Linked DNA regions of Homo sapiens: regions 1, 2, 3, 4 and 6 are each linked to region 5. Evidence: fine-mapped expression QTL. A gene starts in region 5. Each other region holds a variant in brackets. All regions are shown on one strand. Distances are from middle to middle. Region 1 overlaps VGLL4 (vestigial like family member 4). Region 2 holds the start of LOC102723663 (a long non-coding RNA gene). Region 3 overlaps ATG7 (autophagy related 7). Region 4 overlaps HRH1 (histamine receptor H1). Region 5 holds the start of ATG7 (autophagy related 7). Region 6 overlaps ATG7 (autophagy related 7).

Evidence for each region.
Region 1: its variant is fine-mapped to the expression of ATG7 in lymphoblastoid cells (GTEx, PIP above 0.99).
Region 2: its variant is fine-mapped to the expression of ATG7 in whole blood (TOPMed, PIP above 0.99).
Region 3: its variant is fine-mapped to the expression of ATG7 in skeletal muscle (FUSION, PIP 0.95).
Region 4: its variant is fine-mapped to the expression of ATG7 in whole blood (INTERVAL, PIP 0.98).
Region 6: its variant is fine-mapped to the expression of ATG7 in sun-exposed skin (GTEx, PIP above 0.99). The same link has a PIP of 0.9 or more in aorta, cerebellar hemisphere, cerebellum, cerebral cortex, esophagus mucosa and esophagus muscle.

The regions. Positions count from the first base shown.
Region 1 is chr3:11,558,276-11,562,362 of GRCh38, reverse strand. It overlaps VGLL4 (vestigial like family member 4), which reads left to right. Exons shown (of 5, transcript NM_001128219.3): 4 at 2,908-3,031; 5 at 3,536-4,087. The coding sequence ends at 3,807. It also overlaps a transcript of ATG7 not described here. Among named protein-coding and RNA genes, the nearest start is that of VGLL4, 84 kb to the left of the region's middle. The variant C/A (reference allele first, on the strand shown) is at 2,040.
Region 2 is chr3:11,225,081-11,229,166 of GRCh38, reverse strand. The region is part of intron 1 of HRH1 (histamine receptor H1); the gene reads right to left. It overlaps LOC102723663 (a long non-coding RNA gene), which reads left to right and starts at 3,249. Exons shown (of 4, transcript XR_001740596.2): 1 at 3,249-3,467. RefSeq lists an enhancer at 3,070-3,364. The variant G/A (reference allele first, on the strand shown) is at 1,590.
Region 3 is chr3:11,465,628-11,469,714 of GRCh38, reverse strand. The region is part of intron 20 of ATG7 (autophagy related 7); the gene reads right to left. Among named protein-coding and RNA genes, the nearest start is that of VGLL4, 180 kb to the left of the region's middle. The variant G/A (reference allele first, on the strand shown) is at 1,521.
Region 4 is chr3:11,238,892-11,242,978 of GRCh38, reverse strand. All of the region lies in intron 1 of HRH1 (histamine receptor H1), which reads right to left. Among named protein-coding and RNA genes, the nearest start is that of ATG7, 31 kb to the left of the region's middle. The variant CAGAA/A (reference allele first, on the strand shown) is at 1,538.
Region 5 is chr3:11,270,422-11,274,508 of GRCh38, reverse strand. It overlaps ATG7 (autophagy related 7), which reads right to left and starts at 2,112. Exons shown (of 21, transcript NM_001349232.2): 1 at 2,079-2,112. RefSeq lists enhancers at 1,327-1,916, 2,065-2,194, 1,917-2,508, 2,465-2,514.
Region 6 is chr3:11,552,924-11,557,010 of GRCh38, reverse strand. It overlaps ATG7 (autophagy related 7), which reads right to left. Exons shown (of 21, transcript NM_001349232.2): 21 at 1-2,200. The coding sequence ends at 2,168. VGLL4 (vestigial like family member 4) reads left to right here. Exons shown (of 5, transcript NM_001128219.3): 5 at 1-942. Among named protein-coding and RNA genes, the nearest start is that of VGLL4, 89 kb to the left of the region's middle. The variant A/G (reference allele first, on the strand shown) is at 2,183.

The sequences.
Region 1 (4,087 bases), 290 kb before region 5:
ACTGGGACAGGAAAGTTCCCAGAGGGGCATGTATGGGGAGGCTACAGAAAGTGTCCCCCCATTTCATGTTTGTGATAGCAGCTCAGGACAGACAAACACCAAGAGGGTGGCCTTGGGCAGCAGCCAGTGAGGAGAGGCAAGATGGGGTTAAGCTTCGCACATTGAGGGCTGGGCACAGTGGCTCACACCTGTAATCCCAGCCCTTTGGGGGGTTGAGGCGGCGGATCACTTGAGGCCAGGATTTCGAGACCAGCCTGGCCAACATGGTGAAACCCTGTTTTTACTAAAAGTACAAAAATTAGCCAGGCGTGGTGGTGGGTGCCTGTAATCCCAGCTACTCGGGAGGCTGACAGGAGAATCGCTTGAACCCGGAAGGCGGAGCTTGCAATGAGCCAAGATCGCGTCACTGCACTCCAGCCTGGACGACAGAGTGAGACTTTGTCTTTAAAAAAAAAAAAAAAAAAAAAAAAAGTTTGGCGCAGCCAGCCTTGGGGGTTGCTTTCAGATAGGAGAGGTGGTGGGAGCCCTCTCCCCCGGGGCAGCCTCTGTCTGAGGACAGTCACAGGTGGGTGGGACAGCGGGTGAAGGGGTTAGTGACAGGGCTCATACTGGCCCTGCCACAAATCCGCAGCGTAACTTCCAACAGGGTGTTTCTGGCCTTCATTTTCCCCATCTGGAAAATAAGGGTGTGGGGGAGGGGAGCCTCGGGATCCCATAAACGCTCACCATCTGGAGGCCTGGGGCCCGTTCTAGGTGGACGAGTCCCAGCCTGCACTCAACCACAGAGGCAGGGGCAAGATGCCTGACTCCAGCTGGGGAGGAGGGGTGGTGGAGCCAGTCCCACGAGGGCTCACGGGCCACCCTGCAGCCTGGGTTGTGGGGAGGAGGAGAGGATGCCCAGACACTGAACATCTTCACATCTGCAGGTGACCGGTTAAGGCAATTCGCCCCAGCTCAGGTCAGGAGATGCCCTGAAGGTGGTCTGATACCAGTCAGCCAGCCTGCCCTGCTGGTCCCTTGTTAGAGAGTCTCTTCTGAAGTGGCCTTTCCTGCCTTGGATAGACTGACATAAAGGCTGGACAGTGAGCTCATTTCTTCATCTTCCTTGATTCCCCCTCCCTGTGCTCGAAATGTCTCCCCAGTTCCCCACATTTGCGTGGGTCAGGACACGCTCGCTGCAAAGAACAAGCCGGCTGAGCACAAAAGGGAGTTTTATTGGGAGGACCCTGGGGGGGGGTCTCCTAGAGCCCAAGGTCATGGGTGCAGCCAGGCTCAGGAAGGGCCTGGCCATCTCTGAGAGCTGGACAGGGGCAGGGCCCTCCTTCCTCCTGGCTCTGTGCGTGTCCAGGTCTCGGTATTCTGCTCTCTTGCTGCTGCTTGACCCCTGTGGTCAGCCAGTGTGAGATCTGCTCCAGGCCTCATCTGTCGGTCCCCAACCCCCTTTCCGAGCCTGTCTGCTCAGCATTGTGAAGTCTCTCACCCGAGGCCCTGTCCACAGGCAGAACGTGGACATTCAGCCCAGCTCCACCTGCCCGGGTTCTCTCTGCGCTGCCACCTGTGCACACCATGGAGGCCGTACGAACCCTGGGCAGCTCTGTCCCGCTGCTAAGTGTCGGGCCACTAAGAAACCCTGAATTCTTGGTTGGTCTGCTGTTGCTAAGCCACATCCCCCCCTACCCTGGCATGTGTCGCTTCTTGTTAGACCCAAGCACAGGTCCTTGTGTTCAATCCCAGTTCATCCTTGTGGATCCACATTTTCATCCTAGAATCCACTTTCACCATTCCCAATCACTGTCGTCTATCATGAGAAGGTCTGGCATGCAAGCCTTTTGTGTCTTTATACCAGCTACTGCTCTAACTTTAATGGAAAGGGCTGGCTGGGGAGGATAAGGCCCAGCGTCCCTCTGGCTGACACTGCTGTCACCATTGGTCCCTGTGGGGTGATTTCAACCAGCTCCTTGCTGGCTGTCCTGGAACTTAGCCCACATACTCCACCACCTTGTCCTCGGGGGTATTGGAAGATACTTTTCCTGGGGGAA[C/A]CTGAGGAAGTTCTGTTTAGTTCACAAATATTTTCTGTCCCAGGTTCCACACCAAAGCTGGGGGGCCAGACATACTGCCTGGTGTGCATGGTCTTACGGGAGCACCTGGACAGACCGATGCACTTGCTGAATCTTGGTGGGTTAGGGGAGCAGGAGTGAAAAGCGGTGGTGGTGGGGCGGTGGCCAGTGAAAGGCTTCAGAGAGAGATCTGAACAGGGCTTGAAGGAACAAGGGGAGTTTGCCAGGCAGACAGCGTGGGGGTGGGGGTGAAGGAGAGAGTGAGGCTGTGCACAGGGCAGATCGGGCTGGGGTGGGATGTGTGCCGTTCCACACTTAGGCATATTTCCTCCATTTCCTCTCTGTCCCGATTTGTAGGTCATCACTGAGGCCAACTCGAGCTGGCTTTGGCTCAAGCAAAATGCTTCCAGTTAATTGCCGTGTATTGAAGTGTCCTGGATGGCTCCAGGCACACCCGCGGCTCAGTGGACATGATGGGAAGGGCTCTGGGGACGTTAACGGGAGAATCGAGGTCCCTCCTGCAACCCTCTGTCCTCCACAGGATGCCCGGTGTTTGTCTTAACAGATTTGAGAGATGGGGACAGACCAACTCAACAGTTGAGCTTTTGTCCTTTGTACCCTCACTGATCCAAACAGCCACGACCAAGGGCCACTACACACACCCTTGGAGCTGCGCTCACTCTGTGGATTGGCTGTGTTTAGCAACAGGACTCCAGTATTGAAGTGGGAGGTGGCAGACTGGGTCAGGAAGGGCACCAGGACAGAGCCTGAAGGGTGCTGGGGAGGGCCCCAGGGGTGGTGCCCGGTACTGAAGCTGGTCTCCACATACTGACACCCCTCCTCCCCGCAGAACCGGCCCTCCGTGATCACCTGTGCCTCGGCTGGCGCCCGCAACTGCAACCTCTCGCACTGCCCCATCGCGCACAGCGGCTGTGCCGCGCCCGGGCCTGCCAGCTACCGGAGGCCACCGAGCGGTGAGTGTCCCGGGCCTCCTCACCTGTCACAGCTGTGCTAGTGGCAGCAGAGCCCTTCTCTGTCATGCTGTTGGCTGAAACCTCTCGCCCCTGAGCCCATCTATTGCTGAGGTTGAAAAAGTATTTCTTGAGCACGTCCAGTGTGCGCCTAGCGTTGCGCATGACTTGGGTGGGAAGGGCATGAGAAACACACCGCCTCGCTCAGTTCCAGGGTCTCATGCCCTAGTTGCAGGGAGGGCAGCGGCTACTGTTATTTAAATTTAATGCCACATTCTCTTTCTGAACTCGGACTCTGGCCCAGTGCAGTTGGTACATCACCATTTTACAGAAAAGTGACCTGCCCAAGTGCCTGACTTAGCCGGGGGAGGTGGGTTCTGTCTGCAGAGCCCACGCTGACCGTGGCAGCCAGTCCGGCTCTGGGCTGCCTGAGGGAGGGTGCTGCAACCGTGCCTGTCTGTCTGCAGCCACCTGTGTCTGACTGCCTGCCTTCCTGCTTGCCTGCAGCTGCCACCACCTGTGACCCCGTGGTGGAGGAGCATTTCCGCAGGAGCCTGGGCAAGAATTACAAGGAGCCCGAGCCGGCACCCAACTCCGTGTCCATCACGGGCTCCGTGGACGACCACTTTGCCAAAGCTCTGGGTGACACGTGGCTCCAGATCAAAGCGGCCAAGGACGGAGCATCCAGCAGCCCTGAGTCCGCCTCTCGCAGGGGCCAGCCCGCCAGCCCCTCTGCCCACATGGTCAGCCACAGTCACTCCCCCTCTGTGGTCTCCTGAAGGGAGCGCCTCCTCCAACAACACGTGGATCTGCATGGTTTGCCTGAGCTTTGAACAGTCAGTACTTAAAAAAAAAAAAATCATGGGGGTGGGGTGGGGGGAAGGGAAGGGATGGTTTATTTGCAAAAACCATGTTGTTGGGATTTGTGTTCTGTTTTTGTACTTGCTTGGTATCCGTACAAGGGGGCCCTCAAACATGATAGCAGGAACTACGCGTGGAACATCTGTCTAATGTAGCATCCTTACTTCCTGCCTCAGTTACCAAAGAAACCTCTGATGC
Region 2 (4,086 bases), 45 kb after region 5:
TGAAAAGGACAAAGGAAAGGTGGAAAGGTTGATAAAGAAGATGGGAAGAAAAAGGAAGGGAGGGAGGCAGAGGGAAGGAAAATGTCAATGAACTTCTATTTATTCTACGACGTCCATCTTAACTGTTCCTTCTTTTTTGAAGCTTTCCTGTATCCCTTAGCCATATCTAAGCATTTCTTCTTCTGGGTTCCCACAGTATTGTTTCCATATCTCTATTAAGGCATTTACCACTATATTCTTTTTTTTTTTTTTTTTGACATACTCTCATTCTGTCACCCAGGATGGAGTGCAATGACAAGATCTCGTCTCACTGCAAACTTCACCTCCTGGGTTCAAGCGATTCTCCTGTCGCAGCCTCCCGAGTAGCTGGGACAACAGGCACGCACCACCACGCCTGGCTAATTTTTGTATTTTTTTAATAGAGATGGGGTTTTGCCATGTTGGCCGGGCTGGTCTCAAACTCCTCAGGTGATCCACCCATCTCGGCCTCCCAAAGTATTGGAATTACAGGCATGAGCCACTGTGCTCGGCCCACTATATTCTACAGAATGAATTCAGGTGTCCTTCACGTAGACTTTGATCCCTACAAGGGCAGGAGCACTGTGATATTCACTTATATTTCCAGCACCTAGCCCAGTGGCTTTCAAACTTGGCTGCACATTGGAATCATGAACAGAGCTTTAAAAAAAATACTGATGCTGAGGACTCACCACTCCTGGATTTGATTCTGGTGTAATTGGTCTGGGGTATCTCTGGGTTTCAGGATTAAAAAAAAAAATTTTGTTAGAGACAGGTTCTCGTTCTGTTGCCCAGGCTGGAGTGCAGCGGCATGAGCACAGCTCACTGTGACCTTCAACTCCTGCCCTCAAGCAATTCTGCCTTGGCCTCCTAAAGCACTAGGATTACAGGCACGAGCCACTGTGCCTGGCCTGGATTTTTAAAACTCTCCAGATGGTTCCAATGCAACCAATATTGTGAATCACTTTCCTAACTAAAGCTGAATTATGGTAGGAGGAGTTCAGTAAGTGATGAATGAATAAGTAGATGAATCCTGCCTTTAACGCACCACAGTTCTGACCCAACATGACCACATTCAGAGTTTCATGTTATGCTAATTCATTAATATATTCAGGAACTATTAATTAAACAATAATGTGGTACCAGGTATTATGCTAGGCCAAGCCACTAGAGATGGAAATGTGAATAAGACTCCCAATTCTCCCCTCGTTTTTGATATGCCTTAGGGATGGCTGGGGCCTGTCCTAGTTCATCCAAGAACTTTCTGTCCTGCTGATTAATTGGCCAGCTCCAACAGCAATCATTTCCCTAGTAACTGATAGCAAATCTTACTTCTGGCTGCTTCCTCAGGCAAGTGCTATCTAAGGACAGACTCTATTCACTCTCAGAGAGAGGAAGTTCCTAGGGGGTGTGGGCAAGTCAAGAAACCACAAAGAAAGTGGTCTTGTCTAGATCTCTTCAAGCACTCCAGAAGTGAAAGGAAGATGCTCAGGTGCAGACCAGAGTCCTGTGCAGCTCAGACAGGCCTCCTTCTGGGTGTGTATTTACATAATGAAAAGGTAAGGCCGGGC[G/A]TGGTGGCTCACGTCTGTAATCCCAGCACTTTGGGAGGCTGAGGTGGGCAGATCACCTAGGTCAGGAGTTTGAGACCAGCCTGGACAACATGGGGAAACCTCGTCTCCACTAAAAATACAAAAATTAGCCAGGCGTGGTGGCGGGCGCCTGTAATCTCAGTTACTTGGGAGGCTGAGGCAGGAGAATTGCTTGAACCAGGGAGGCGGAGGCTGCAGTGAGCTGATATCACGTCACGGCACTCCAGCCTGGGGGACAGAGCGAGACTCCGCCTGAGGAAAAAAAAAAAAAAAGATCTTAATCACCCCATAGGCAAATGGCATTTCCTTCCCAACCACTACGGTTCCATGCTCAGACCTACTTCAAAACTCTGCACTACAGGTGACTGAAGAGCAGAGATGATGTCCATGTGGGGTCACCCCTGTTCTGTTCTGCTGCAGACTTTGACAACATCGTCTCTCAACTGCTGTCACAGCTTCCTAACTGGTCTTTCTGCTCCTGGTTTTGGCCTCTTTCACACAGAAGCCAAATGATCTTTCTAAAACCACAAATCCAGTTCCCCTACTCAAAACTCTTTAATGGCTGGCCACTGTTGTCAGGATATACAGAAGCACCCTGGCCCCACATGTGTGATACAAGGGTAACAACCCAAATAAAGTCTACACATGGTATCTTCTTTTTTTTTTTTTTTTTTAGACTGAGTCTTGCTCTGTCACCCAGGTTGTAGTGCAATGGTGCCATCTCGGCTCACTACGACCTCTGCCTCCCAGGTTCAAGTGATTCTCGTGCCTCAGCCTCCTGAGTAGCTGGGATTACAGGCACCCACCATGACACCTGGCTATTTTTTTGTATTTTTAGTAGAGACGGGGTTTCACCATGTTGGCCAGGCTGGTCTCCAACTCCTGACCTCAAGTGATCCACCCGCGTCAGCCTCCCAAAGTGCTGGGATTACAGGCATAAGTCACCACGCCTGGCCCCATGATCACATTAAAAAGAAATTCAAGTCCAACATCCAGAAAATAAAACGATATGGAAAAGTAACTTCAACCTTTACTGAAGACTCTCAAAGAGGCAAAACCATCACAAAGAACTTCTCCCATCTGTCGCTACATAGCGCCAGCTACAGCATCACCTGCTCATCCTCAAATCTTCCTGCTCTCTCTCTCAAAAACTTCAGGTTGCCTTGGTTCCCCTTTAATTCCCTTTTCCCTTCTTTCACCCACTCTTCAATCTTTCTGATTTATGGAAGAGTATCATGTAATTTCTAATATAAATGAACTTAGCTTTCCCAGTGCCCTCTTTTCTTTACTCATTACTCTAATCAGCCTGGCAAATGCCCACGAGATAAGCAAACAGGTCTACTCCGGAAACGGAGGGAGGGTGCCGGGCAGTGGCTAGTATATGTCAATACCTTCGACCCATCACACAGAGCTTTTTCCACCTGGTCTCACCTTACTGTGCAGCCTCATCTCTGATTCTCCACTCTCCCCAAATAGGCCCTGCTCGTGTACACCCCATACCTTTACAAATGCTGCTCTCCTGCCGGGAATGCCTGTTCTCATCCTCTTACCCTGGCAAGACATTCAGTTAGTTCTTTACAACCCAGTTCTGATGTCACTTCCTTTTAGTCATTCATCCGTCCCTCTGGGCTGGGTTAATTCACTTCCTTCTCCAGGGCTTCGCTGAACTCTGCACAGACCTCAATTACAACCCTTATAAAGCTGGGTTGTGGTCGGGTGCGGTGGCTCATGCCTGTAATCCCAGCACTTGGGAGACTGAGGCATGTGAGTCGCCTGAACCCGGGAGGCAGAGGTTGAAGTGAGCCGAGATCGTGCCACTGCACTCCAGCCTGGGCGACAGAGCGAGACTCCGTCTCAAAAGTAAGTAAGTAAATAAATAAATAATAAAGCTAGGTTGTAATTCCTTAATTACTGATCAGACTTTTTTCACTAGACTGTGGGTGTCACATGTGGGTCTGAGTCATCTCTGTGTCCTCAGAGCCAAGAAGTGGGGAGGTGCTTAATGAAGTTACTGAATGCTCCAGAAATATGTTCCCGTCACTGAGTGCTCCAAAGAGGCATTCACCTGTCTCCTCTTCCCTGATCATCCCTCGGGGCTACCTGGAGTGCCTGCCAGATCAGAGTTTGAGAGATCTGCCCTGGCAGTCGCCTGACTAGGCCTACATATCTTCCCGTGTCTGGCCAGCCTTCCAGAGAGCAGTCTGTCCCTCTCTCCGACTCCAGCCGGCCAGGCCTGGTTCTCACATTGTCAAAAATAAAAGGAGTTAAAAGAAGCCAAGCGATTAGGCAAGAAAAGGAAATGAAGGCATCCAGACTTGAAGGAAAGAAGTGAAACTATTTGAAGATAACATGGTCTTGTTTGTAGAAAATCCTGGGGAATCTACAAGAAAATTTTTAGAACTCACAAATGAGTTCCAGGGGCCCAAGTCCTCAGTTTGGCTTTGAAGGGGTCCCTTGGTCTCCTGGCCCTGCTCCCCCT
Region 3 (4,087 bases), 200 kb before region 5:
CATGCTTGGCCCCAGTACACCATCTCTAATAGCCTGTAAGACATTAGCTGGGCTGCAGTGGACAGGGCTAACTGAGAAGAGGAACGTCAATACTCCTGAGCTGGGACATGCAGCTCCCATCCTATACTTCCTCAGGTGAAAGGCCAAGTGTATCATCACTCCTTTAAGAGTATGGAGATGAACATTTTGTCACAGAGGAAAGAAAATCAGTGGACTAATAGGTAGGTTTGTTGGTGGCATGATTTTATTTTACTTTTTTTTTTTTGAGGTGGAGTTTTGCTCTTGTTGCCCAGGCCGGAGTGCAGTGGCACGATCTCAGCTCACCGCAACCTCCACCTCCCGGGTTCAAGCAATTATCCTGCCTCAGCCCCCCAAGTAGCTGGGATCACAGGCATGCGCCACTACGCCTGGCTAATTTTGTATTCTTAGTAGAGATGGGGTTTCTCCATGTTGGTCAGGCTGGTCTTGAACTCCCGACCTTAGGTGATCCACCTGCCTCGGCCTCCCAAAGTGCTGGGATTACAGGCATGAGCCACTGCACCCGGCCTTATTTTACTCTTAAAGCCAGATCTATAGCTATATTTTGTTCACAGAATTGCCTGCTACCCTCTTCAACCATCTCATCTTCTGTTGACAGGTCAGGACTTGATTCACAATGGGCCTAGCTTAATTGTGTAAATAAGCAAACTCAAGAAGAGATGAGAGAGCCATCATGCAACAACCCAACAAGATTGGGCAGCTGTGCACCGCTTCAGCTTTTCCATCCTCAATCTGCCCACACACAGCCTGGAGGGCCAGAGGGGCAAATGTGCAGTCTACAAACATTACAAAAATACATTAGGTCCACTCAGGGTCATGGTTCCAAATCTATTTTAGACCAAAGATGGTATCTGTTGAGAGTCTGATGAAACCGAGCCTCCCTGGCTGCCCATAATACACACACGTAACATTTTGCGTACAGTCCCTGGGCATTCAGGAAGCATCCCCATCCCAAGCCCACCTGTGGTCCCACAGGCATTTAGAGGAACAGGTCACAGGGCTTGAAAGAATGAAGTAGTGGGGGATCAAGAGTTCCTCTTTCTAGGGCTGTGTTTTCTCCATGACACAGTTCATAGCATGAACGTCCCTCTCTGTGGGGATCGAGAGGGCTAATGAATGATGTGAAATCCAGAGCCCAAACACTGACCTGTCAGCTTGTCCTCAGTGGCCCAGTGCCTAAGTCCCAGCAGCTGTGGAAAACTTCAGAATCTTATGACTTCCAAGGTGGTAAGTAAATAAAAGTCAGAGGATGGACTGGGGACATGGAGTGGGGAGGAGGATAGGCGAGGCATGATCCAGGCCTTGGAAAAAGCCATCAGTTCTTCCAGGGAAGTGGCGGGCTGGCCTGTGCTCTCCCACTAGCTCCACTTACCCCTTCCATTCTCATTCTTCACTTACGCAGAGACTGCAGATTCCTCGGGTGATTGGTACCAAAATCCAAATGGTAAAAATAATTTGCTAAATACCTTCCTAGACAAATT[G/A]AAATCCAAGACCTTTCTGAGCTGTGTCCAGCCATACCTCAAAGGGCGAGCAGGGATGAAAGTCACGCTCTTCTATAGCTGAATTTCTGACTCAGACTTCTGCCTGTCAACCTTCTGATGTCACAAGTCAAACTGTGCCATCAAAGGCTGAGTAAGCATCTTTTGGAAATAGAAACTCAACTGTAAGAACACCAGTATTTCCAAACGCAAAACAACTCTGCCCAGTTTCCAAGTCAGCTACTGTATATAAATTTAGCCATGACACTGGGGGAGGAATTCTTTCTAATTCTGTATTATTTTGGCAAAAAAATTCAAAGGTAAAAATATTAAGTAACAATAATGTACCAGTTACTTTGTTAGGCAAGACATATAAAGCAGTAAATAAGACATATAATGTCTTTGCCTTTATGGGGATTATATTTGAGTGGGGCTGGGGTGGTAGACAGAACACAAATAAATAATAATGCCAAACGGTGATAAGTCCCACATAGGAAACAGGACAAAGGAATAAAAAAATAGGGCCAGGCGCATTGGCTCACGCCTGTAATCCCAGCACTCTGGGAGGCCAAGGCAGGTGGATTACCTGAGGTCAGGAGTTCAAGACCAGCCTGGCGAACATGGTGAAACCCCGCCTCTACTAAAAATACAAAAATTAGTCAGGCACGATGGTGGATGCCTATAATCCAGCTACTCGGGAGGCTGAGGCAGAAGAATCGCTTGAAGCTGGGGGGCGGAGGTTGCAGTAAGCCGAGATCGCACCATTGCACTGCAGCCTGGGCGACACAGGGAGACTCCATCTCAAAACAAAACGAAACAAAACAAATTACGGTTGAGGTAATATTTTATGTCCATTTTACGGATTAGGAAAATGAGAACAACAGGTTAGGTGAGTTGTTCAAAGACTTCCCAGCTAATAAGTAGTGAATTTAAACTCAGGTTGGTCTGACTCCAGAGTTGTTACTAACCACTGCCCCATGCTATCTCTTTGGCTTCCTGAGAAACCAAAGAATCTGCAGAAGTGATAGGGTTAAGAAGCCATCAGTTTTTTTTGTTTGTTTTTGTTTTTTTCTGAGATGGGGTTTCACTCTTGTTGCCCAGGCTGAAGTGCAATGGCATGATGTCAGCTCACTGCAACCTCTGCCTCTCGGGTTCAAGTGATTCTCCTGCCTCAGCCTCCAAAGCAGCTGAGATTACAGGCGCCCGCCACCACACCTAATTTTTTGTATTTGTAGAGATGGGGTTTCACCATGTTAGTCAGGCTGATCTCAAACTCCTGACCTCAGGTGATCTGCCCGCCTCGGCCTCCCAAAGTGCTGGGATTACAGGTGTGTGCCACCATGCCCAGCTCCATCATTATTTTTAAAAGTCCCTCCATTTAGGACATAAAAATTTCTGAGATCTGTGAACACAAATGAGTGTACTACAAGCTGTCATTCTGATGCTAATGCATCCAACAGTTGAGTTTCTATAGATGATATTGAACATAAAGGTGCTATAATCCTTCATACAACCCTCTGAGAACTGCTTTTTCCGAAAAGAGCAGTAAGAGCACAAAGGCTTACAGAGTTTAAGAAACCTGTTGTAAATAATGGAACTTATAAGCACCGACGCTGTAGTCTAGGCCTCGTGCCTGTGACTACAGTGCTTTTTCCATTACACCATGCTGCCTTCCAGAAGAGTCCCCAAGGAGTTACATTTTTCTCCCACTGGGAGACAAGGCAGTAACTAACTTGGCAGAACAGAAAGAAATGAGTGACTGTTTTGTGTCTCTGCCAAGCAAGTATTCATGCCCTTTGCAATATGACGTGGACACAAAACCAACTGATCTTTAGCAGCTAAGCATTCTAGAATTTGCTGAAGAATTTTCTCACCTTACCCGTATGGGGTCCAAAATTAAGAGGGGAAAAACATATTTATGTCTCATTCAGAATTCAAAAAGCAATAAATCCTTCAAGCCCCTGGCAAGTTTCTTTAATCCACTGTAATCATGTTTCCTTGTATAACAAGTCTTGTGATGTCTGCAGCAGCTTCTCGCTAGAGGAACAGCAGCCTCAATGCTGGAGTTCTTCTCATGCCTGGGGGATTATTCCATTTTCCACATTAGGAATAAGCCGCAGACTTTAGGTTCTAAAACGGAGCCAGAAAATGCTGACTAGAATCCAGATGCCCTAAATATAATTAGAGCTAAATTTTACTGCCCTCTGTGAAAGACACAAATGAAAAGAATGTACCAACTTTCAGAATATTGATCCAGAGAGCAAAGTTATGAATAGAGCCAGCATGGGTTCTGCTGCACTGAGAGGCCCTTAAAGCTAACCAGGGGCTTTCCAATTCTCTCCCCTTCTTCTTATCCCTGGGTTTTTAATTTTTATAGAAGCCAAATATATTAGGGAAGGAAGAGGGGCTACAGGCTTTTTTATTTTTATTTTTTTGAAGCAGGGTCTCGCTGTCGCCCAGGTTGGTGTGCAGTGGTGCAATCACTGCTCACTGCAGCCACGACCTCCTGGGTTCAAGCAATCCTTCCCCCTCAGTTCTCCAAGTAGCTAGGACTACAGGTGTGTGCCACC
Region 4 (4,087 bases), 32 kb after region 5:
TCATGCCACTGCACTCCAGCCTGGTGACAGAGCAAGACTCCATCTAAAAAAAGGAAAAAAAAAAGAGAGACCCAAACCAATACAGAACAGCAGAAGCCAGGGGAGATGTACTAAGTGCAGAAAGTGTAAGCATAATTTTCAAAAGAAGTTCAGACTTAAAGAAGTTTGAGGTAGGATTTATCCCATTGACGAATATTGTACCATACCTTTTGGTCCACTTTTCTACTTTTCCCTGAACACTTTATAGTTAAAAATTTATCTCATGGTAATCTAAAATGTAAATAAAGATTTATGCACAAAGACGCTCACTGCAACATTATTTATGATAGAAAATAAAGAGAAATGAGCTGGCATTTGGGAACTAAATGTATCTTGAGGTAGTGTGTCCGGAGTTGGTTCCTTCCGGCAGGTTCCTGGTGTCGCTGACTTCAAGAATGGCGACGCAGACCTTTGCAGTGAGTGTTACAGCTTTTTTTTTTTTTTTTTTTTTTTTTTTTTGAGACGGAGTCTGGCTCTGTTGCCCAGGCTGGAGTGCAGTGGCATGATCTTGGCTACTGCAAGCTCTGCCTTCCAGGTTCACACCATTCTCCTGACACAGCCTCCCCGAATATCTGGGAGTACAGGCACCCGCCACCATGGCCGGCTAATTTTTTGAATTTTTAGTAGAGACGGGGTTTCACCATGTTAGCCAGGATGGTCTTGATCTCCTGACCTCCTGATCCGCCTGCCTTGGCCTCCCAAAGTGCTGGGATTACAGGCATGAGCCACCGCACCCGGCCAAGTGTTAGAGCTCTTAAAGATGGCAAGGACCCAAAGAGTGAGCAGCAACATTTACTGTGAAGAGCAAAAGAAGAAACCTTCTACAGCCTAGAAGGTGACCCAAGCGGATTGCCTCTGCTGGCTGGGGTGACTAGCTTTTATTCCCGTATTTGTCCCCTCCCATGTTCCGTTTTTGTCCTATCAGAGTGCCCTTTTTTCAGTCGTCCCCACTATTGGCTACTTTTAGACTCCTGCTGACTGGTGCATTTTAGAGAGCGCCCACTGGTACATTTTGCAGAGTGCTGATTGGTGCGTTTTACAGAGCGCTGATTGGTGTGTTTTATGTTTTAGAGAGCACTGATTGGTGCATTTTTTTTTTTTTTTGAAACGGAGTCTCGCTCTGTCCCCCAGGCTGGAATGCAGTGGCGCCATCTCGGCTCACTGCAAGCTCCACCTCCCAGGTTTGCGCCATTCTCCTGGCTCAGCCTCCGGAGTAGCTGGGACCACAGGCGCCCGCTACCACACCCAGCTAATTTTTTTTTGTATTTTCAGTAGAGACAAGGTTTCACTGTGTTAGCCAGGATGGTTTCGATCTCCTGACCTCGTGATCCACCCGCCTCGGCCTGCCAAAGTGCTGGGATTACAGGCGTGAGCCACCGTGCCCAGCCTGAGTGGTGCATTTTATAATCCCATTGCTAGCTACAGAGTGCTGATTGGTGCGTTTTACACTCCTAGCTACCGAGTGCTGATTGGTGCGTTTTACAATCCTCTTGTAAGA[CAGAA/A]AAGTTCTCCAAGTTCCCACTCCACCCAGGGAGTCCAGCTGGCTTCAACTCTCAGTGGCTACAGAATAGAATATCATGGGGTCCTTGATAATCATTACAGAGCACCAGCAATTAGGTGGTAAAATGCTTATGATGAAATTTATAGAAGACGTACGTGGTTTGTTTGTACAGGACAATGTCAATTCTGTTAACTAACAGGCTTCTATCCAGGGTGAATCTTTGTTATGTTACATCAACCATGGTTTTCTCTGGGTACTGGATGATACTTATTATATTTGGTATTTCTCAGGATTTCAACAATGAGATTGTCTTTATTTTATAATAGGGAAAATAAGAGCTAACTGCATTCATTTTGAAAAAAACAAAATATAGATTCCTTCAATAAAAAAATAAAAATAAAGAAATGTTTTCCACATGCTTAGCACATCTTTTATTTTCTCTAGTACAAAGTGAGAGTTTGGGATTCCTTTCTTGATTCATTCTAAACTGCCTCACCTGCTACTCCCCAGTCCAAACTTCTCTATCCTCTTCATCATTTGTAGGCTGGTTATTCTAGTCAAGTAAGTCAGAACATTAATTTCTTTGATCTAATTCTGAGAAAGAGGTGTCATGCATGAGGGTGCTCCAGTACTGCATAATCTCATTAAGTCTGGCCAGGTCATAATTTCCATGAAACACCCAGGCTTATCAGTGCCACTGGTTGTGATGAACAGAGCAGACTGCAAATAGCAAAATGCCATTATGGGCCTAGTATTACAGGAACCTAACTGACTTAGAATCTGGAGGAGTTCTGGCTTAAGAGTCAGCCTCTGGGTAAGATGCAAGAGGCAGATGACCTTGCGGGCAGGTAGTGGCCCCAGTGGGTTTTCCAGGGGTGGAGGTACATGTGCAAAGAGGCTACAGAGTCAGAGAAGAAAAGCTACTAAGAACAGAGGACTGTGTGTGGAGCAAGAGGGAGTGGTAGGGATCGGGGCAACCTGGAGAGCCTGTCCTCTGCTTGAAGAGGGCAGCTGCCACTCACATTCTACCAACTGCTGCAGACTCAGATCTGCCTGTTTTTAAAAGGAAACACAAAATCTGGAGTTTTTACATGAAATATTTTAGTTTTTAAATGCTGTCAATTATTCAATTGTTTCATTTGTCTTCTTGAACACTACACAGGGTAAACAAAATAAATTTTGTAAGCCCCCAGGTAGAAACCTCAAGCTGGTTCATAGGGGATGCAGAATGCTGAATATGAGATAATGACCCAGGAGTGGACACCTTTTGGGGTATTTTCCCAGCTCAAGTCAAGCCTCCTCTCTGAGAACCATCATTTCACCTAGGGTGGGCTCTGGCAGCCACAGTTATACTATGTAACCCTGACCCCTGGGCACACGTGATTGAACCAGAAGTTATCTCTGACCCAGAACAAACCAGTCAGCCCAGTTCTCTCTTCTGGAACACTGGAATTGGAGTTGTGCCATCAAGACAGTCTGTTGGTCTCACATATCTGATATATCATATATCTGATGTATCAAGAAGACAAATGAAACAATTGAATAATTGACATCATTTAAAAACTAAAAGATTTCATGCAAAATCTCCAGATTTTATAAGTGGGGTTAAGTGGGGGTGGGGGGCTGCCACTGGGGGCAAGAGGAGGAGTGTTGCTCACCTCTGGGAATGCTAAAATAGAGGAGGGGATAGAAGAAGGCAGCAGACAAAATGCAATAATTCATATGCTGGAACAACCGAGATCTACCAGCAGAAGGATGAATTTAGACCTTTCCCTTATATCATACACAAAAATTACTCATAATTGATGATAGTCCTAAATGTATGAGCTAAATTTTTGTGACCTTGAGTTAGGCAAAGATTTCTGAGACACAGCACCAAAGGCATAAGGAATTTTTAAAAACTGCTAAATTGGACTTCATCAAGATGAGAAACTTTTGGGTTTCAAGAGGTACCACTAAGAAAATGAAAAGCTATGGAATGGAAGAAAATATTTATAGGTCATATATCTGATATATCATATATCTGATGTATCCAAAATACACAAAGAACACTTCCAACTCAATCATAAGAAGATAAATAACCCAATTTATAAATAGGCAAAGGATTTATATAGACATTTCACCAAATAAGATAGAGGAATGGCTCAAAAGCACATGAAAGGATGTTCAACATCATTAGTCATTAGGGAAATGAAAATCAAAACCACAGTGAGATACCACTTCACATGGACTAGGATGACTATAATTTAAAAAGAAGGACAATAACAAGTGTTGGTGAAGATGTGGAGAAAGAAGAACTCTGAAACACTGCTGGTGGAAATGTCAAATGGTGCAGCTACTGTGAAAAGCAATCTGATAGTTCTTCAAATGGTTAAACATAGTTACCATATGACTCAGTGATTCCACACCTAGATATATACCCAAGAGAACTAATCGTGTGACCACAGAAAAACTTGTATGCAGATACTCATAGCATTATTCATAACCACCAAAAAGTGGAAAAAAACCAAATGTTCATCAACTGGTGAATGGATTTTGATTAAAATG
Region 5 (4,087 bases):
GCCCTTTGCTCATCTCACTTCGAACCACTCTTCACCTGTCAGATCTCGTTCGTCCTTCAGGTCTTGGCTAAAGCAGCACCTCCTCACTGAAACCTTCTCTGATGAGTCAGCCTGACTTATGCGTACCCTAAGTCCTCCTCTACCAAACCTCCGCAATAGCTTCATGCCATACCGTTGCTATCTCCTTGGCTTAAAAAAAAAGTAAACTCTTTGAGGACAGGGATGTGTATCTTACTCATTTTTGTATTCCCAGCTTGCAGCGCAGTGCCAGACACACAGCTGAAGCTCAATAAATGTTTATTCTCTATAATGAGATGCTGGCTGGGAACGAAAAACGGAACCTGTGGTTGAGTAATGGAAAGTCCAGTACTCAGCTCTTAAAGGATTTCAAAATCATGTCACATGAGGGCAGGAAGGAGTTGGCCAAGATAAATGGAAGAGGAAGGGGAGATGTTCGAAGCAGCAGAAGCAAAGGGCTATAGGTGACACACACCTGCAAGCAGCTTAACAAGACTGGAGCAGCGTTGGGGGATGGGAAAGCAGTTTAGCAACATGAGCCATTCCAAGACTGGACTTTTCTTTATTCAAGTGTTAGGTCACTTCCTCAGGGAAGCCATCCCTGACTAGCTAGCTTTTATGCTTCCCCCCAATTACTGTCCATCCCATGACCCTGTACGTTTCAGAATCGGAAACACCTACCAACCCTTACTGACAATGCCGCCACCGCCACCACCACCACTATTATTAGAAGGTGCCATGAAACAGGGTTCTTTTTCTTCTTATTTTACTGATAGATCACCAGTGCCCACAATAATGCCAGGCACATAACAGGCAAATATTTGTTTTATTCATTCATCCAACAAATATTTATTGAGCATATATAATATGCTAGGCATTGCTCTATATGCTGGGGATATAACAAAACATGACAAAATTTGCTGTCACTGTTAAGTTTACTATGAGCAAATACATTAAATATGCTTAGCCTAGAGAAGAAAAGGTGAGAAGAGGAAGACAAACTAGCAGCTTTCAATGATGTATAGGGCAATTAAATGCAGGGGTGATTCCAAGAGCCTGAAGGAGGAACAGTGAGCTAAGATTACCGAGTAGCTGCTTTCAGCTCAACCTAAGAGTCAGAACTGGGGGAGGACCAAACAGGAGCAACCAGAAGTAGAAAGCTTTCTGTCACTGAAGAAATCTGGCCAGTGGGCAGAGGTGTCAGAGAAAAAAATCTAAGTAGTCAATGAAAAAGGGAGTCTGGGATCCAGAGGTCCCAAACTGACAGCCACAGATATGACTGGTTACAGTTGAACAGGGTTTTGTAAAAACTGAGTTGCCAATGTTTTTAAACGCCAGAATTACTTGCCAATTTTTAAAAAATGGCATCAGTCGCCAGTGTTTAAAAATCAGGAAACTGCACGCACGTGCACACACACACGGTTTGGCTTGTACTTCTCCAACATCATGTACGTTAGTACTGTACTTATAAAATTAGAAGTTTGACTCTATTTCTGACAAATGTTCTAACACCTATATTTACCTTACCGGATTGATTCTTATTGTGCATTAGTTTCTAACCCTGTAACCAAGGAATCGAGAATCTTCTTTCTCAGAAAGTAAACTTATTTAACCTCCTCACTTAAACAAATGGCGGATTATCATTCCCATTTTGCAGATGGAAAAGCAGCTTAGATGGGGAAGGAACGTGCCAGAGACAGCAAATCCAGACACAGCCAGGCTGGGAATCCAAATGTCCCATCTCCCGTGTTCCAACACTGAAGATTCTGAGCACTGCCTACCAAGAGGACAGGAGGGGCTGACTTAGGAAATCAGCACGAGCTTCCAAGTCAGAAGACCCCGGACTGAACCAGTCTGAGGGGACGCGGCTACAGACGAAGGGCGCCAGCCGGAATCAGTGAGTCCCTGGAGGAGGAAGGACCACCCAGAAACTGGCAGAGGAGGATCCTGAGACTTGCTGTGACCCTCGCCCTCCCTGGCGAGCTCGCCCCTTGACTCCAGGCCTCCAAAACCGGCCCAGCAAGACCCCACTACACCCTCGCCCGCCGCGGCTCACTTACCGCCGCTCAACTTCCGGCAACCACAGCTCTCTCTGAGGCGCGCGCCCCGATGACGCAACGCGGTCCTGCCCGCGCTTGCCACTGGGAAGCGGCGCGCGTGCGCAAAGGAGCAGAGGCATGCCGGGGAAATGCGCCCCTAGCACCGAGCTAAGTGGGAGGAACTTGAGTCGTGAGGAGGGCGGGGCATCAGGGGGCGGTGACGCCCCCGGGGGAAGCGATGGAGAGCGTCTCCCTTACCAGATGTCGGAATGTCTACATTCCCTTCAGGCTTTTAAGAAAGTGCCCACGTTCTCTCTTTTGATTTCAGAGGATGACAGGAATGATCACCATGGTCATTCTCCAGGAGAGGCGGCATCAAACGCAGCACAGGGGCCATCAGGGTGGCAGGTGTGGAGAGCCAGGAGATGAGAATTTTAGTAGGAAAAGGCCAGTGAACGTCGACAGTGACCAACCTGCCTTTTCTAAACCAGCCATCATTCTCACAGCTCCTCACTGTCAGTGAGATAAAGTTATTCCCTCTCAATACTTGGTTAGATACTCTGCGCGTGCAAAGCACTGGACAGGTGTTGAAGATACAGCAGTGATTATGACAAGTTTCTCTGTCTGGCCTGTAAGGCCTTTCACAAATTAACTCTGATATACCACTCTAGACTCATAACAACAAGAGCGATGACTGCTATTAATTAACTAGCCACCATGTTTTCAGGGTTTTACATCTCTAATCCTCACAAGAGTCCTGAAACATATCCCCAAGTTATATATGAAAGAACAGAATCTAAGAAAAGTTAGGTGGCTTGCTGAAAGTTAAAGGGCTTTTGGGCCAGGAACGTAATCTGAAGTTTGTTTGATTCTGGCAAATAAGAAAACAAATCCAGACTAATAAGGATACTTATTAGAAAGGATTACTGCAGGCCCGGCGCGGTGGCTCACGCCTGTAATCACAGCACTTTGGGAGGCCGAGGCGGGCGGATCACGAGGTCAGGAGATCGAGACCATCCCGGCTAAAACGGTGAAACCCCGTCTCTACTAAAAATACAAAAAAATTAGCCGGGCGTGGTGGCGGGCGCCTGTAGTCCCAGCTACTTGGGAGGCTGAGGCAGGAGAATGGCGTGAACCCGGGAGGCGGAGCTTGCAGTGAGCCGAGATCCCACCACTGCACTCCAGCCTGGGCGACAGAGCGAGACTCCGTCTCAAAAAAAAAAAAAAAGAAAGGATTACTGCAAGAAGTGAGAGAGGTGGGAGAGAAGGAACCGTGCAATAGCAGAGGGAGACTATTGCAATAGTGAGATCACTCTGACCAAAACATCCGCAGATGTTTCAATGGTTAGGGAAAAAGAGGGTTCCCCCACCCCCCACCCTCCCCAAAGGCAGGTAAACAAGGCTGGAAACAACCGAATATGGGAAGTGGGATGAAGGGGTGGCTTGATCAGATAGTAGATTAGAGAATGTTTTATCTTGAGGCCAACCTATTCTCAGTAGGGGTTGTGTGTGTCAGTCTCTGAGCCCAAGCTAAGCCATCATATCCCCAGTGACCTGCACGTATACATCCAGATGGCTTGCAGCAACTGAAGATCCGCAGAAGTGAAAATAGCCTTAACTGATGACATTCCACCATTGTGATTTGTTTCTGCCCCACCCTAACTGATCAATGTACTTTGTAATCTCCCCCACCCTTAAGAAGGTTCTTTTATAGTCTCCCCCACCCTTAAGAAGTTTCTTTGTAATTCTCACCACCCTTGAGAATGTACTTTGTGAGATCCACCCCCTACCCCCAAAACATTGCTTTTAACTCCACCGCCTATCCCAAAACCTATAAGAACCAATGATAATCCCACCACCCTTTGCTGACTCTCTTTTTGGACTCAGCCCACCTGCACCCAGGTGAAATAAACAGCCTTGTTGCTCACACAAAGCCTGTTTGGTAGTCTCTTCACACGGACACATGAGACAGTATGCTAGTTCAAGCTGAGAGTAGGTTAAAGTAAGGAGCCTGGGGAAAGGAAAGAAGC
Region 6 (4,087 bases), 280 kb before region 5:
ACCCCCGGTTTTACAGTTTTTAGCTGTTGAATTTTGGAAATTGGCACTGGGTGAAAAGGTCGGAGGACTGGCTCTTGTAGTCACAGAGTGGCTGCAGGCCTTTGAAAAGTGGAGGAAAGAAAAGCCCTTCTCCTTGCCCCGCACACATTTCACTCCCACTGTACTGGGCTTCCAAGCTTTGGCATTCAGGCCCCTATATTTTCTGTAGGAAAAATCGTTGAGAACACTTTTCTATATGGGTGATTTTGAGACCATCGTTACGCTGTGCGTAAAGAATGTACAGAGAAATTTGTAGGTATTTTTTGAAGAACATTAATTTGTTAATGATATGTAGCTATTTAATTTTTCCCTTTCCTATTGTAATCATTCATTTTTTTTGTTGTTCGGAAAAAAAAAGTTGATCTTTTTTTTTGTCGTAGATTTGTCTGTAAAAGTGCAGGAACAGTTATTCTATGAGAACACTGCATCTGCATTCATAGCCACGAGTTTGTTATTGCTACAGGCTACTGAGCGTCGTAACAGGAAAACCACCCACAGCTGACCGGCTCGGTGGAGGACACTCCTGGGACAGGTCTCTTTGTCAGTGAACAAGGGCGTCACTCTGGGAGGGGTCGGCGGTGCTGGCGGCCGGGTCCCTGGTGCACTGACCTATCTGGGATAGGCAGTACCCTGGAGGGGGGCCTGGGGCAGAGGAGGCAGCAGAAAACCAAACATTTCACTGAGAAAGCCCCCTCCCTGCTCTAAGAAGGGGCTCCGTGAAGTTCTTCCCAGAGCCGCGCTGCCTGCAGTGCGCTCTGACCTTCTCTTCATGTGTGTAAATCTGTAATATACCATTCTCTGTGGCCTGTTTTTCCTGGAAGAAGAAAAAAAAAGGTTTGGCAGGCCATCTTTTTTTGTACTTAAAAGTAGCCTTAAGAACAATAATAAAGTGCTCTTAAACCACATAGTGTACGTGTGCAGTTTCAGCGCCAGGCTGGGTGGGCGGACTCGGGCCCTGCACCTGTGCCGGCTGTGTCCCCATGAAGCTCCCATGAGCTGAACGACAGCCACTGGAACTTGGACTGGCTACTTTGGGAGAAGCGAAGCCTCATTTGAAATCTACCCTACTAAATCCTACTGTTGTAAGGGTCAGCTCGACTCAATTTTCACTTTGATTCTGGGCCTAAGACAAAAGCTGAAAGAATAAAATAGCAGGAAAGACGATGCCCTCTACACGGGGGCAGGGTGGTCACAGGTACCTAGGCCATGGCCTCTCCTGGGTTGGGGCCTCACAGCTGCACACACCCAGAATAAAGAGGAAAACCAGCTCTTGCCTGAGTTACCCATGGTAGAGCCGTCTGACCCCTCCCTCGGCTGGGGCAGGAAGGCAGCCCAGGCTCGGCCTTTCTGGGCCTGGCCTGCTCATAAGGGCAGGGAGGAGCCCCATCCAGGCAGCTGCCAGGATCTGCCCCTGGGCTCTTCCCCCCAGCTCAAGGCAGCAGCAGAAACTCCTCTCCCTCAAGCAGGCAGGCAGGCACAGATGCTATGCCCACAGTGGAGGACAGGCTGGGAGGCAGAAAGCCATGTCTGAGCAGCTCACTCAGTCCTTGGTGGAAATCTGGCGTCACTGGGTCATGTGGGCCCTTTAGTCTCGTACCCAGCTCGGCTCTCCTCCTCCTCCCGCTCCACCAGGGCCAGGGTGCAGTGCGCTCACGGGGTCCCACCCTCACCCATGCCCAGGGCCCCCACAGGAGGAGCCTGCGGTGCGGTGGGCAGCACATTCCGGGGATGAGGGTGCCACCTCCCGCAGTGGCTCTGGGCAGGAGCTGGTTGCTCATTTCCCCATTTGGTCTGTGTTGGGTCACCCCCTCAGGGCCAAGGGGAAAGGATCCTGGGGGATGGCTATCAGTCACTGTGACAAGAAATAAAAACTGCATGGAGGACCAAGTCCCAGGTCAATAGCAAGGCCAAGGCCAAGGTTATTATTTAGCTCTGAACTGGTGGTATCTTGAATCCCGAGCAACGCCGAACACTGGCCACTCCTGGGCAGCAGAGGGGGGAATCCCAGACCTCGGGGTATGGAGGAGGGGCCCAGAATCACCAGGCCTGGGGTCAGCAGTCCTGCTCTGGCGATGGAGAGCTCCTCAGCAGGCGGCCGGGGAGAAGTCAGCCCCACAGCGGGGCCATCTCAGATGGTCTCATC[A/G]TCGCTCATGTCCCAGATCTGCATGGAGAAGGGGAGAGGCTCAGCCGAGATGTCCCACTGCCCGGTGGGGGGCACACAGATGCTTCAAAACCGCAGCAGTCATGGCAGCTCCCACCTGCAGAACCACTCCCTTGTTTCTGAGGGACTGTCACCCCATTTCTGTACAAGGAAACCAAATCTCAGACTTGCCAAGGCGTCACTAGTGTGTGAACCACCTGGTGGAACCAACAGGGGAGGGCTGGGATTTGCACTGGGGAATGTGCCTCTGCTCACCTCCTGCATGTCCACCTCGGGGGACCGTCCCTGACCCAGCCAGCCTCTGCTCATCCTGGCTTCTGCAGCACTCACCCCCACCCCAAGCCAGCTTGTTCTCCTTGTGGTCCACCTGCCCTCTGGAAGGCAAGCTCCCTGAGGGCAGGAATTCTGGCATGGGCACGTGCTGCCTTGGGAGGCTGCACCCTGGGCACCTGCTCCATGTTCCCTCTAACTGTAGTCCAGCTGCCCACACTCCCAACTCACACTAGAGAGCTGGCTCAAGAGCAAGCCCTCCCCACCAGCCAGGGTGGAGGTGGCCTGGAGCAAAGACAGTGGAGACAGCCAGATCCTGCCACAGTCCCTCAATGCGTGTCCTCCGAGTCTGAGCCTCGCAGTGAACCTGGGGAGCAGGAGGCCCCAACGTGGCTGTGAGGAGAACTGAGGGACCCAGCAAGAGCCACCCTGGCCGACACCCCCATGGGCCCAGGCCCATTCATTCCCTGCAGTCCTTGGTGTCAGCCCCCAGGGAGAGAGCCCAAGGCCAGCACAGCAGGTCCCAGGGCCCCTGGCACCCAGGGCTCCCTGGAGGGCCAGTCCCTGAACCTACGCCTTCAGACTTCCAAATTCCTAGAATTGGTTGCAAAAGGCCACCTCAGTGCTAGCAGAGCTGAGAGAAGGAACAGCATGTTTACACGAGGCTGGCCCGGGGAGATGGGAGGCCTGGCCAAGGTAAATATCAACACCAGCTTGGCTTTCAAAGTCGAGGATGTCGAAAATAAATAGAAGGAAATTTCCTCTCTCCTGAGGACCCAGCTCCCAGGCTGAGGGGAGGCAGCCTTCTCACTGCCCCTGTCTCCCGAGGCCAAACTATCTGAGCTCTTGGGAGGGGACTGCCAAGCGAGGTCTAGATGCCAGCCCAGCCAGGCTGTGGATGGGCCGGTCTGCGGTCCAGTGACCAGGTGTCCCTATCTCTGGGTCAGGTCCCCACCGAGCTCATCCTCAGTGCGGCTGGAAACTCCCCCAGGGTGGGACTGAGCAGTGCAGGGCAGGGGAGCTGTGTTTCTAACAAAGGTTGCATTTAGGAGCTCCTGGATCTGATCTCTGGGTTCTGATGGTCCGAGTGGAAGAAACTGAGCCCCTGGAGGGTTTGCCAGCACAATCCATCCATTCTTTCACTCTCCCATTCAACGAACACACATTCATGTAGCCAGCTCTGTGCCACACGCTGTGTAGACCTGCTGCGAATACTCCCTCTTTCACTCCTCACATCTACCTGTGAGGTGACCTCACATCTACCTGTGAGGTGAAGATGGAAACAAGCCCAGAGAGGTAAGGCAATTGGCCTGAGATCACACAGCAAGCAAGCTTCAGTGCTGGGAACCAGGGGTGTGTGGAAAAGGGCGGGGCGGGCTGCCTGGAGGAAGGGGCCGAGGTGGGAGGTGATGGGGCAAGATGGAGAATGAAAAGGGTGAGCATTGTGGGCCGTGTCCTCCGGGACCTCCTGCCCAGCCTCCTTGGAGGGCTGCCAGCCTGGGCAGGGCAGGGTCAGTACCAAACAGCAGTGCCCTCTGCAAATGGGTGGTTGGGGTTGTTCTGTTCATAAGAGGACTCGGGCCTGGGCCGGGGCTGGGCTTTATAGGAAAGTAGAAA